Linked DNA regions of Homo sapiens: regions 1 and 3 are each reported to be linked to region 2. Evidence: microRNA targets listed by miRTarBase, many of them from high-throughput screens and not tested one by one. Region 2 holds a microRNA gene; each other region holds the end of a gene's coding sequence.

What was found. Region 2 holds the annotated microRNA hsa-miR-6515-5p (UUGGAGGGUGUGGAAGACAUC, at 2,717-2,737, opposite strand). A microRNA usually pairs through its seed, bases 2 to 8, with sites in the 3' UTR of a target mRNA and lowers its output. Matches are read on the target gene's strand: a 7mer-m8 pairs with bases 2 to 8, a 7mer-A1 pairs with bases 2 to 7 and ends in A, and an 8mer does both.
Region 1: miRTarBase lists HAND2 as a target of hsa-miR-6515-5p. Seed matches in the 3' UTR shown: 8mer at 944-951.
Region 3: the mRNA of LRP10 is a reported target of hsa-miR-6515-5p. Seed matches in the 3' UTR shown: 7mer-m8 at 3,491-3,497, 7mer-m8 at 3,185-3,191, 7mer-m8 at 2,621-2,627 and 7mer-m8 at 2,614-2,620.

Annotation. Positions count from the first base shown.
Region 1 is chr4:173,523,903-173,528,027 of GRCh38, reverse strand. It overlaps HAND2 (heart and neural crest derivatives expressed 2), which reads left to right. Exons shown (of 2, transcript NM_021973.3): 2 at 653-1,937. The coding sequence ends at 751. Among named protein-coding and RNA genes, the nearest start is that of HAND2, 4.3 kb to the left of the region's middle. RefSeq lists an enhancer at 2,743-3,284.
Region 2 is chr19:12,939,098-12,943,222 of GRCh38, reverse strand. It overlaps MIR6515 (microRNA 6515), which reads right to left and starts at 2,739; the gene lies at 2,683-2,739. It overlaps CALR (calreticulin), which reads right to left. Exons shown (of 9, transcript NM_004343.4): 2 at 3,988-4,089; 3 at 3,592-3,795; 4 at 3,076-3,170; 5 at 2,771-2,980; 6 at 2,569-2,682; 7 at 2,336-2,479. RefSeq lists enhancers at 2,167-2,794, 2,131-3,330, 3,567-4,125.
Region 3 is chr14:22,876,982-22,881,106 of GRCh38, reverse strand. It overlaps LRP10 (LDL receptor related protein 10), which reads right to left. Exons shown (of 7, transcript NM_014045.5): 7 at 1-4,125. The coding sequence ends at 3,580. Among named protein-coding and RNA genes, the nearest start is that of REM2, 4.2 kb to the left of the region's middle.

The sequences.
Region 1 (4,125 bases), not on the chromosome of region 2:
GAAAGTAAATTGAGCCGCTTAAAATTTTCTCAGATTCCTACCAAGTGCCCACAGGGCAGTGGTGCAGGATAGAGCTATGTCCACGAAGGGCCCGGAAAATAATTGCATTTGTCGAATTTTTCTTCTTTGGCCCCTGCAGCCCTTTGGTGGCTGCATAATCGAGTGACCTCCCGAATAACCAGAGATTTCAGAAGCCTTGGAGGAGAGGCACTGCTGAGCTGGAGGCCGAGAGCCTCTGGCCGAGAGGCCCAGGCCGAAACAGAGGCTCCTTCGCCCTATTTTTCCTAGATGTGGATCTAGGATTGCTAATGAAAACAGAGAAACCAGACTTAGCGCCGACTCCAGCTCCCGCCCCTACATCTGGAGTAAGAGAAAAGGCCCCCCGCTCCTCCATAAACGACTCGAAAACGGGCGGTTGTTTATAAACTTGTGGATCCGGTTGTTGAGCGCTGCAGCGCCGAGGCCTCCCCGCCGGCTAGGGTAGCGCTAACCTTGGTAGCTTCTCTGCAGGGGCTGGGACTCCCCCATCGTATCCTTTCCTCTCTGGTTCACTGTCTCCTCCGGCGCAGGAAGCTCCGGGTTGGTGTGGAACCAGGTATCCTCTCTGAATTTCTCTTTCCACTTTTCTCGCCCTCGCCTTTCCTCTGTCCAGAACGAAATCTTGAAAAGCACAGTGAGCAGCAACGACAAGAAAACCAAAGGCCGGACGGGCTGGCCGCAGCACGTCTGGGCCCTGGAGCTCAAGCAGTGAGGAGGAGGAGAAGGAGGAGGAGGAGAGCGCGAGTGAGCAGGGGCCAAGGCGCCAGATGCAGACCCAGGACTCCGGAAAAGCCGTCCGCGCTCCGCTCTGAGGACTCCTTGCATTTGGAATCATCCGGTTTATTTATGTGCAATTTCCTTCCCCTCTCTTTGACCCCCTTTGAGGCATCTGCTCCCCGTCTCCCCCTCCAAAAAAAAAGTGGATATTTGAAGAAAAGCATTCCATATTTTAATACGAAGAGGACACTCCCGTGTGGTAAGGGATCCCGTCGTCTCATAGATTCTGTGTGCGTGAATGTTCCCTCTTGGCTGTGTAGACACCAGCGTTGCCCCCCGCCAACCTACTCAACCCCTTCCAGATAAAGACAGTGGGCACTAGTGCGTTTGTGAAGTGTATCTTTAATACTTGGCCTTTGGATATAAATATTCCTGGGTATTATAAAGTTTTATTTCAAAGCAGAAAACAGGGCCGCTAACATTTCCGTTGGGGTCGGTATCTAGTGCTATCCATTCATCTGTGGTCGTTCCCTCTTTGAAGATGTTTCCAACAGCCACTTGTTTTGTGCACTTCCGTCCTCTAAAACTAAATGGAATTTAATTAATATTGAAGGTGTAAACGTTGTAAGTATTCAATAAACCACTGTGTTTTTTTTTTACAAAAACCTTAATCTTTTAATGGCTGATACCTCAAAAGAGTTTTGAAAACAAAGCTGTTATACTTGTTTTCGTAATATTTAAAATATTCAGAAGTAAACTAAATTATCATGATTGCCTCTAACTTTATTTTAAAGACTCAGTGGTTCCAACCAGTCACCCTGACCTGCGGCCTACGCAGGAGGAGGAGGTGCTCTTAAAGAGAAGTGTCCTTGTTACAAATCCTGCAAATGGTCTGGGGTTTGTCGGTGTGGTGTCTCCTTCCCTCTTCCCCCAGCTGGAGAACGCTGAGTAGTCTCTAGAAGGAAGATCTGGGCTGGAGAACCCAGTCCGGCAGTTCGCTCAGAAGGTGTAAAGGTGCTCTTGCTTTCCTGAAGTCAATCAGAAGCCATTTCTTGAGGCCGTCAGTTTTTGTTTGGAGAGTGTTTCTGGTGGAGGAGTTGTGAGGAGAACCCCGGCATTATTGCTGCAACGGGAACTAGTCTGGGGTGTTTAATTCAAACTATGGGGCTTTCATCCAAGAAAAAAAAAAGGAAAAAGAAAAGAGAGGAGAGGATTTTGCTTGTATTCTATACGGGGGCTTCTCATCTGAGCAGGCGGGAAAGGGGGGTGGAGGGAGTTTCGAAAAAGTCCATGATTAGGTAACAAGGAATTTTACGTCAAGTAAGAAATCGTGAACAAGACCACGGATTTAAAGAGGGGCGAGGGGCGGGTTAGATTTACAAGGAGTTACAGGGAACTCAATATTAACTGTGCGGTGTCTGAAGTCTTCCCGGCCGCAGCCCAGCGAAACAAGCGACACCCTTCCGGGACTACCGGCAGCACGGGACCCGGGATCTCTCCCTGTTGGGTCTTTGGGCTCCCTGAGTCCCAGCTCGTCCCAGAAGAAAGTCCCAGCGGCCTCCTTTGCCTGCAGCCTTGGCGGAAGCTTGAATCTCAGCTCTAGAAACCGGAGAAACTAAAGTGCCTGTGCAGGCTGCGGGAAGGGGGGAGGAGGCTGGGAGGGATTTTGGAAGGGGGTGGGAGGAGGAGAAAGGTGAACCGTATTAAAAAGTGGTTTGTTTCATGGAACGCCGCGTATATAAATCTGGTGTTGGAGAGGCTTGCCAGAGGGTTTCCATCCTGGAACCCATCCTCAGGGTGATGTTCGCAACTTGGCCTCGGGCACAGACCCTCCCGCGATGTCCCAAGGGTTCCCACGCCTAGCTGGTGTCCACTATGACCCCTCTGCCTGCAGCAGGCCGAATCAGACCCGGCGTGGGCGAATTCAGAAGTGCCCAGGGAGAGACAAGCTAGAGGCTCTGCGGACTTCTGCGGGCGGCTGACAACGCGAGGGCGAGGGGTTAGAACAACTCGGCCAAAGCGATCTGAACTTTCTCCCCTTGGGTCAGCCGGCGCTGGGCCGACCTGGTGGGCGCGGGGCTGTGTTTACAGACACTTGCCTTTGTTTATAGCATGGGGAGGAGGTGTGGGGGAGGCGCGCCCTGATTTTCTGTTGCTCTCCCAATCCTCCTGCGTTTGATCCAGTGGTTCCCTCCCTCTCCTGATTCCAGTTGTCTTCCGCGTCTTTATTTTAATCTGCTCAGGAGAAAGCCATCAGGTCCTAGACGTGGAAGAAAGGAGCCTACCAAAGTGTTGGAGTAAACAGTGGCGGAGGAGGTGAGGTTTTAAAAACAGGAAACGGAGAGGAGTTATCTTCACCATGCACCTACGCTTCTCTGCACCTTGTGTAGCTGGTCTCCGCCATCTGGGCCTTAAGGCACTTCTGCAGATTTAACACTTTCTCTGGCTTATTAAACAACAACAGAGGGAAACCAAAAGACCCTGGCGCACCATTGCTACGGAGAAACTTGCTAATACACTTGCTTTTTAAACCTGCGCTCCTCTTTGGCCCCGGCCAAGCACAGCCTGCCTCCTCTTCCTCAGGGCCAGCAACACTAGGCCTGGTCACCCCACCCGCCCTGCCATTTCAACTCGCCAGAAACCCTAACCAGCCAGACACCCAGCAGACCGGACACCCCAGACGGCAGAATGCCCAGCTGCCTGACACTGCAGGCGGCTGAACCCCCTAACCAGACGCACACCCCAACTGACCAGATGCTTCAACCTGCAGGACACCCCAGATTATCTGTCACCCCAGCCGCTCTCAGCCACCCAACATCCCCGCCCCAGGTTGTCAAGTCCCAGGAAGTGAAAGGCGTACTGGGCAGACGTTTCTTCTGAGCTTCCATGCTTTTCTCTTCCAACACTTATTTCTCTTTTAACTTTTTCTTCTTTGTTTAAAAAAATTTTCCAAGCCTCTACTTGCGGGACCGGCTAAAAGGCCTCTGTTTTAATTGCTCGGATAATGTGGTTGCTGCCATTTTGTTAAGAGCAATCACTCCTGCAGGGAAATCACAAGCGTTCTAGACAGGCCGGAGCCGACAAAAATGTAGGATTTGACGTTAAAAGCTAAATGGGAAGCTGCGGCGGCGGAAGGTAAATTGATGGTAGATCTGGCTGTCAGGGCTCTGCCCCAGACCGCTGTGCAGGCCCAGCGTCTGATAACCCTGGAGCACCGGAGGGGCAAAGGCTTGGCCAGTTGTAGACGGTGTGTGTGTGTGTGTGTGTGTGTGTGTGTGCGCGCGCGCAAACCCCTTCTCAGCTTGGGAAGCAATTTGAAAAACTGCAGAGTGGGGGCCCCGCTCCCAATTGCCTGGGCACTGACAGCAA
Region 2 (4,125 bases):
GTCCCAGCTATTTGGGAGGCTGAGACAGGAGAATGATGTGAACCCAGGAGGCGGAGCTTGCAGTGAGCCAAGATCGTGCCACTGCACTCCAGCCTGGGTGACAGAGTGAGACTCCATCTCCAAAAAAAAAAAAAAAAAAAAAAAAGATGGAAAGATGGAGAGACAGCCAGGGACGGGACGGGCTCATGCCTGTAATCCCAGCACTTTGGGAGGTCATGGCGAACGGATCACTTGAGGCCAGGAGTTCGAGACCAACCTGGGCAACATAGTGAAACTCTGTCTCTACTAAAAAAAATTAGCCCGGGGTCTGTGATGGCGCATCCCTGTAATCCCAGCTACTCAGGAGGCCGAGGCAGGAGAATCGCTTGAATCTGGGATGCAGAGGTTGTGGTGAGCCGCCGAGATTGCATCATTGCACTCCAGCCTGGGCAACAAGAGTGAAATTCCATCTCAAAAAAAAAAAAGCCCAGCGTCGTGGCGCATGCCTGTAATTCCAGCTGCTCGAGAGGATGAGGCATGAGAATCACTTGAACCTGGAAGGCAGAGGCTGCAGTGAGCCGAGATCAAGCCACTGCACTCCAACCTGGGTGACAGAGCAAGACTCTGTCTTAAAAAAAAAAAAAAAAAAAGATGGAGAGACTCAGGTGCTGTACTGCCCAGGTTCAAACCCCAGCTTTGTGGTTTCCTACCCCCATGACCTTGGGCCACTGACTTCAGTTCTCTGCACCTGTTTCTTGTTTCTCACTCTCTTATTCAGGTATTTTTCAGGTACCTACTACATGCCAGAACTGTCTTGGGCACAGAAGGTATTTCAGTGACCAAAACAGACAAAAATTCAGTCCCAGCATTTTTTTTTTTTTTTGGGACAGAGTCTCGCTATCACCCAGGCTGGAGTGCAATGGCATGATCTCAGCTCACTGCAAGCTCCGCCTCCCGGGTTCACGTCATCCTTTTGCCTCAGCCTCCCGAGTAGCTGGGACTACAGGCGCCCACCACCACACCTGGCAAATTTTTTGTATTTTTACTAGAGATGGGGTTTCATTCACCATGTTAGCCAGGATGGTCTCCATCTCCTGACCTTGTGATCCACCCGCCTTGGCCTCCCAAAGTGCTGGGATTACAGGTGTGAGCCACTGTGTCCGGCCAAGTCCCAACTTTTTTTGAGAGGGTCTCACTCTGTCACCGAGGCTGGAGTGCAGTGACATAATCATGGCTCACTGCAGCCTCGATGCCCCAGGCTCAAGTGATCATCCTTCTTCCTTGGTAGTTGGGACTACAGGTATGCATGACATCTCGCCAATTTTTAAAGTTTTTGTAGAGGCTAGGCATGGTGGCTAACCCTTGTAATCCCAGCACTTTGGGAGGCCGAGGCGGGCAGATGACCTGAGGCCAGGAGTTCGAGACCAACCTGGGCAACATGAAGCCCTGTCTCTACAAAAAGGCTGGGTGAGGTGGCTCACGCCTGTAATCCCAGCACTTTGGGAGGCCAAGGTGGGTGGTTCATGAGGTCAGGAGATGGAGACCATCCTGGCTAACACGGTGAAACCATGTCTGTACTAAAAAAAAAAATACAAAAAAATTAGCCAGGCATGGTGGGGGGTGCCTGTAGTCCCAGTTACTCGGGACCCTGAGGCAGAAGAATGGAGTGAACCTGGGGGGTCGTGCGGAGCTTGCAGTGAGCAGAGATCACACCACTGCACTCCAGCCTGGGCGACAGAGCAAGGCACGGTCTCAAAAAAAAAAAAAAAAAAAAAAATTAGCCTGGCATCCATAGTAGCACATGCCTGTAATCCCAGCTACTCCGGAGGCTGAGGCAGGAGAATCGCTTGAAACCAGGAGACGGAGGGCGCAGTGAGCTGAGATCGTGCCATTGCACTCCAGCCTCAGCAACAAGAGTGAAACTCTGTCTCAAAAAAAAAAATTTTTTTTGTAGAGATAGGGTCTCCTCGCTGTGTTGCCAAGCTAGGTTGAGTTGTGTAACTCCTGGCCTCAAGCAATCCTCTGTCTCAGCCTCCCAAAGTACCGTGATTGTAAGGGTGAGCCACTGTGCCCAGCCCCAGCTAACTAACTGGGTTACCTGACCACCTTCTAGGTCTTTGGGGGTAAAGAAGTTGATTTGCATAAAAGTACTTGGGGAAGTACTTGGTGCACAGCAAGTATAACCTTAAAGGGGTTGCTGTGAGGACTTCACAGGGACAGACCAGGAAGTACTGTTTACAAGAAGTACCATTTTTGAGTCAGACTCACCTGGGGTGCCTACCCTGTCCCTTTCCTCTTGGGTGATCTTATGCACTTGAGGTACCCCAGGGATCCTCCTTTTTCCTCCAAGTCTCACCTGCCAGAGGTCCAGGCCCAGCACGCCAAAGTTATCATAGGCATAGATACTGGGATCGGGAGAATACTCGGGGTTGTCAATTTCTGGGTGGATCCAAGTGCCCTTGTAATCTGGGTTGTCGATCTGCCGGGGCTTCCACTCACCCTGCAGAAGGGAGAAGGAAACCGAAGGGTGAGTAAGGTTGGTGCACTCCCCACTGTGAGCCCCAGCCCTGCTCAGAGCCCCAAACTCACCTTGTACTCAGGGTTCTGAATCACTGGGGGTTCCCACTCTCCGTCCATCTCTTCATCCCAGTCCTCGGGCTTCTTAGCATCAGGGTCAGGGATATGCTCGGGCTTGTCCCAGTCCTGGGGGGTAGATGAAGAGATCAGAGTTGGCCCAGATGTCTTCCACACCCTCCAATGTGGAGAGCAGAGCCCCTGCCCAAACACCAACCTCAGGCTTGGAGTCTGTGGGATCATCGATCTTGGCCCGCTCATCCCAGTCTTCCGGTTTTGAAGCATCAGGATCCTTTATCTTCTTGGGTGGCAGGAAGTCCCAATCGTCTTCCAAGGAGCCGGACTCCACCTGGCTGTTGTCAATCTTCACCTCATAGGTGTTGTCTGGCCGCACAATCAGTGTGTACAGGTGTGTAAACTCATCATCCTGAAGAAGGAAGAAGGTGAGCGGGGGCCACCCCCCAATGAGGCTGACCTCTGAATCTCCCCATGACAGCCATTTGCCACCACCCCCAGGCACACCTTGCAACGGATGTCCTTGTTGATCAGCACGTTCTTGCCCTTGTAGTTGAAGATGACATGAACCTTCTTGGTGCCAGGGCCACAGATGTCGGGACCTAGGTGTGAAGCAGATCCAGTTAAGAGTCAGAGACTACCCATCATCTCGAGGCTCTCACCCCTCTTTATAAAAGGAAGACCTGGTTCTTCAACTCGGGTCTGTCAAGGCTGAGAAGAGAAACTCAGACCCTGATTCTGTCCTGAATGGGCTGTGGGTGGAGCCTTAAGTTTAAAGGAGAAAAAAAAAAAATCAGTGCTCTAGAACTCAAAATCCTCATTAGTAAGATTGGGAAATAACTATATACAAACACGCAAATTAAATTAACAGCCTAGATCTGCGATCATAATGCAATAAATTGTTGCTGGGACTTATTCTTTTAGCTCCCCTTCCAAAAAAAATCATTATTAAGAAAGTCAATGGGGTCTGGGTCTCCCTCTAACTAATGGGACAGAGATCAGCACCAGGAAGCAGGCCCTCACCAAACATGATGTTGTATTCTGAGTCTCCGTGCATGTCTGTCTGGTCCAAACTATTAGGAAACAGCTTCACATAGCCGCCCCCACAGTCGATGTTCTGCTCATGTTTCACCGTGAACTGCACCACCAGCGTCTGGCCTTTGTTGCTGAAAGGCTCGAAACTGGCCGACAGAGCATAAAAGCGTGCATCCTGGCTTGTCTGCAAACCTGAGACGGGACGGTAGTGAGGTCACCGTTGGGCCTTGACTCGCGAGGACCCTCGACTTAGAGAATAGAGAAGACTCCCCCACTTCCTCCACCTGTCCTCCTCCAAGGGGACTGTCCCGGCTGTGTGTGTACAGACAAGGACTTCTGCCAGGAAGTCCTCCCGGATCTGAGCACCCACTCCTAGGCTCTTACCTTTATCTTTCTCCTCGTCACCGTAGAACTTGCCGGAACTGAGAACGAATTTGCCAAAATCTGACTTGTGTTTGGATTCGATCCAGCGGGAAGTCCACCCGTCTAAGTGGGGGATTAGAGGGGTAGGTCAGAGCGGCT
Region 3 (4,125 bases), not on the chromosome of region 2:
GCAAAATGGGGTTTATGATGCCCATGGCCCAGCCCTGTTGTGTGGGTTCACTTCAGGTGATGAAGAATCTGGCATCATCGGGCACTCACTTTTTTTTTTGAGATGGAGTCTTGTCTCGCTCTGTTGCCAGGCTGGAGTGCAGTGGCGCGATCTCAGCTCACTGCAACCTTTGCCTCCCAGGTTCAAGTGATTCTCCTGCTTCAGCCTCCCGAGTAGATGGGACTACAGGCACGCACCACCATGCCCAGCTTATTTTTGTATTTTTAGTAGAGACACGGTGTCACCATGTTGGCCAGGATGGTCTTGATCTCTTGACCTCGTGATCCGCCTGCCTCGGCCTCCCAAAGTGCTGGGATTACAGGTGTGAGCCACTGCGCCCCATCCAGGCACTCACTCTCTAACCACCTAGGTGCTTCTGCAGCCTTGGGCTGTGTGGCTGGGGGGTCCTTCTCCCCTCCTAGTGAGGTCTGGAGCTTGGTTCAGGCCCATGATTTTTTTTTTAAATCTATTTATTTATTTTGAGACCAGGTTGTGAGACTGGCTAATTTTTAGTATTTTTGGTAGAGACAGGGTTTCATCATGTTGCCCAGGCTGTTCTTGAACTCTTGGCCTCAAGCGATCCGCCTGCCTTGGCCCCTCCAAAGTGCTGGGATTACAGGTGTGAGCTACTGCGCCTGGCAGAATTTTGTTTCTTAAGGACTGAGTTCTGGTATCTTCTTTTCTTTTTTTTTGGAGAAGGAGTCTCGCTCTGTCACCCAGGCTAGAGTGCAGTGGCGCGATCTCCACTCACTGCAACCTCCGCCTCCCGGGTTCAAGCAATTCTCCTGCCTCAGCCTCTCGAGTAGCTGGGACTACAGGTGCATGCCGCCACACCTGGCTACTTTTTTGTATTTTAGTAGAGACAGGGTTTCACCGTGTTGCTCAGGCTAGTCTCGAACTCCTGAGCTCAGGCAGTCTGCCTGCCTTGGCCTCCCAAAGTGCTAGGATTACAGGCGAAAGCCACCGTGGCCCAGCCCTGGTATCTTCTTTTATCTTAGGCTCTAGACTCTGATTCACAGCCTGAACCCTATCTCATGCTGAAAACACCTCCCACCTTCCCACCAAGAGCCTTAACGTGGGTCCCACACCGCTAAGACCAAGCACCTTGGATATTGGTATCTATCTTGATGGAATTTTAGGTTGCCTCATTTCTTTTTTTCTTGGGCCCTGGTGGAAATAAACCTGAGTGACTGCTCCCCAGTGCCATCACTTGGGCAGGACACTCTGTCTTAGTTTCTCCATGCTGCCTGTACAAGGTCAGTCCCCTATCCCGGCTAGCTTGGGGCTTCACTGTGGCTGACAAGAGTATTATTACTACCTACACCTCGTACAGCACACAACCAGAACCTAGAGAAACTTCTTTCAGGCCCACTGATCTATAAGCACAAGCCTCCTTAGTGAACTCTGCCCTAAAGTCCTCCTTCCAGCATTTGGAAGCATTCCACCATGAGGAGCAGGTTTACCTTAAGTCTTTGTCCACTTTCAGTTTGCAATACCACTAGGAGAGAAAAGGTCTGGATGAAGGGATGAAGATATCAGGCTGCAGGTATTTGAGGTGGCTATGGGGGAAGAGAAGAGCAAAGGAGAGGGCAAAAGACCAGGCTATGGAGAGGCAGGGGAGGGAAAATCACTGCTTCACTATTTCCATTGGGCCTGACGCTGAGTGGATCCTGGATTGTTTGCGTTTGGGAAGGAGGGCCCAAAGGGAGAACAGTAAGCAAGAACCAGGTTCTCCAGAGCCCTCTCCCCAGTCTCTGGAGAGGGTCTGCAGTGAAAGGAGCTCGGGTCTTCCCTGAGCCAAGGTGCCAGGGTCCCAGAACTGCACATGGGCCCACACCCCTCTCTGCTACTTCCTCAGGCTCTTGCTCACTAGAAGAGAGGAAAATTGTGCAATTAGTGCTGGGTTTGAGGAGGCTGACAGGGTGTAATCAACAGGGCCTCTCCACCAGGTGTGGGGCTAGGCTGGGTGATGGGCTCTGCCAGGCGTGGGGCTAGGCTGGGTGACAGGCTCTGCCAGGTGTGGGGCTAGACAAGGAGAGCCTGAGGGGAGCCTCTTTCCCCAGGGACTGGGTCCGTTAGGGAATTCCTCAGTTTTGTTCCTGAGGCATCACTCCCACCCCCACAGCTTCCTTCTACATCTTCTGCCTCGATCTTCCTTCCAAACTCTGGGGCAGCTTCTGTCACTTTGCTCACTAGGGGCTGGGTTCCAACACTGCTTGCGAATCATTCCCTCCATCACCCACCCCAGCGCTGCAGCTCTGGCCGCTGCTTGTGCTCTCAGGCCCAGGGTCTTTCCTATAACCCTTGCCCTCTTGTCTCCTCCGTTTGCTTGTTCTGGGGACACTCCCCCTGTCTAGAATTCACAGCTCTATTCCAACTGCTGACAGCATTCTTTTGGTTCCAGTTTGGGCCCTCTTCCAGGAAGACCTCTTGGATTTGGCCATGGTGATGCCAGCACCACACACCCTGAATGTTTGTGAATTCTCCCTCCACTCACCTTTGCCTGCCTTGAGGTATCCTGGCTGAGAATTCATCTGTCTTGCATAGGACAGACTGCTAAATGCCTGGTGGGTGTGGAGGGTGGAGGGTAGGAGTCATGACTCCTGTGTCCCACCAGGGACAGCTGCTCCTATGATCTGGGCTCAGGGTATGCTCCAAAAATGAGAACCTTCCTGACCGCAGGGCCCAGCTGGCTCCCCTGACTTCTATGCTGGCAGTGAGGAAAGAGGCCCTGGAGTCAGTCATTGCAGAGCTGGGCCCCAGGCATTTGAGTGAAAATGGAGAGGATTGATCCTTAGGGTTCCTAGAATTTTCTTACCTTCTGTGTGGTATAAAAATCAAGAGTGCAGTGGTTGGGAGATGAACAGGAAGAGGGCAGGAGGTAGAGGGCCAAGCAAAGGGCTCCACAGGGAGGAGTGGGATGAGGTGAGCATAGACTGAGATGGGCAGAGGCGGGGCTCAGGCTCGCAGCTAATTTGCAAAATTTTGAGATGTATGATTCCTTTATTTTTGACCTCAACTTACTGAGCAATGCCGTAGCTATGGAATAGAAGCATTTGTTGCACTCTTTTTGTGAGCCAGGCCCTGTAGGAGGGATTGTGGATGGCAAAACCTCAGGTTCTGCCCAAATCCTCCCCTTGGGGGCTGGAGGGTCTCTAGTTAATTGGCATTCCGGTGCTTAAGGCCACTTTTGGGTAGAGGTTTGGCAAGGATGGAGTGTCCAGACCTATGATCCTCTAAGAACTTTACTTTTTAAAAACAGCCACCCAAATGGTGGTGGCGTGGGGAGCAGGTGGTGGTGAAGGGACTGGGGTGTCTGGCCATGGCCACGTACAGAGGAGACTCTGTGAGCCCTCTCCCTGCCTGAGGGACACTTAACTTTATAGCAGCTACATAGGGTCAACGGGAGGCCCACCAAGTCCCTGAAATCCAGGGACAGGGAAGGAAGTGGTGGAGGGGAGGCTGACCCACCTCTAAAAGGTTGTGCCACTATGAGTAGAGCCCCCAGGGGAGAGGCCTCAGTAGAGCCCCCAGGTCCCCTCAGGTAAGCAGTGGCTCATCCTCTGCCTCAGCTACCCACACCCCCGGCTCAGCCAGTGGCACCAGTAGCACATCGTCCTCATCTTCCAGGGCCAGGACTGCTGTGTGGGGTCCAGGGGGGCTCCGGGTTGGTCCTGGGGGCCCCAGGCTGGGCAACAGGCGGCCTCGCAGGGCCTGCACCACTCCAGACAATAGTGATGGCTCTAGGGGCAGTGAGGGCAGTGGCCCTGGGGCTTCAGGGACAGTAGTGGGGGCTGGAGACGTGCTAGCAGATGGGAGGGGAGCCTTGATGGGCAGTGGGGGTGCCTGCTCCCCATCTTGCCCACCCACTGCCCCGCCCTCACGGGCTGGACCTGTGCCACCATCTAGGGCCTCAAGGGGAGCAGCAGAAGGTGTGACCTGGGATCTGGCCTCAGAGGCCCGAGCCGGGGTGTTGGTTCGAGGGAGCAAGCCCCAGCGGCGGAGACGGCGTACCAGGCGTCGCATCAAGCGGCCCCGCTGACGACGGCGGGCACCTGGGCCACCTCCTGGAGTCATATCCTGGCG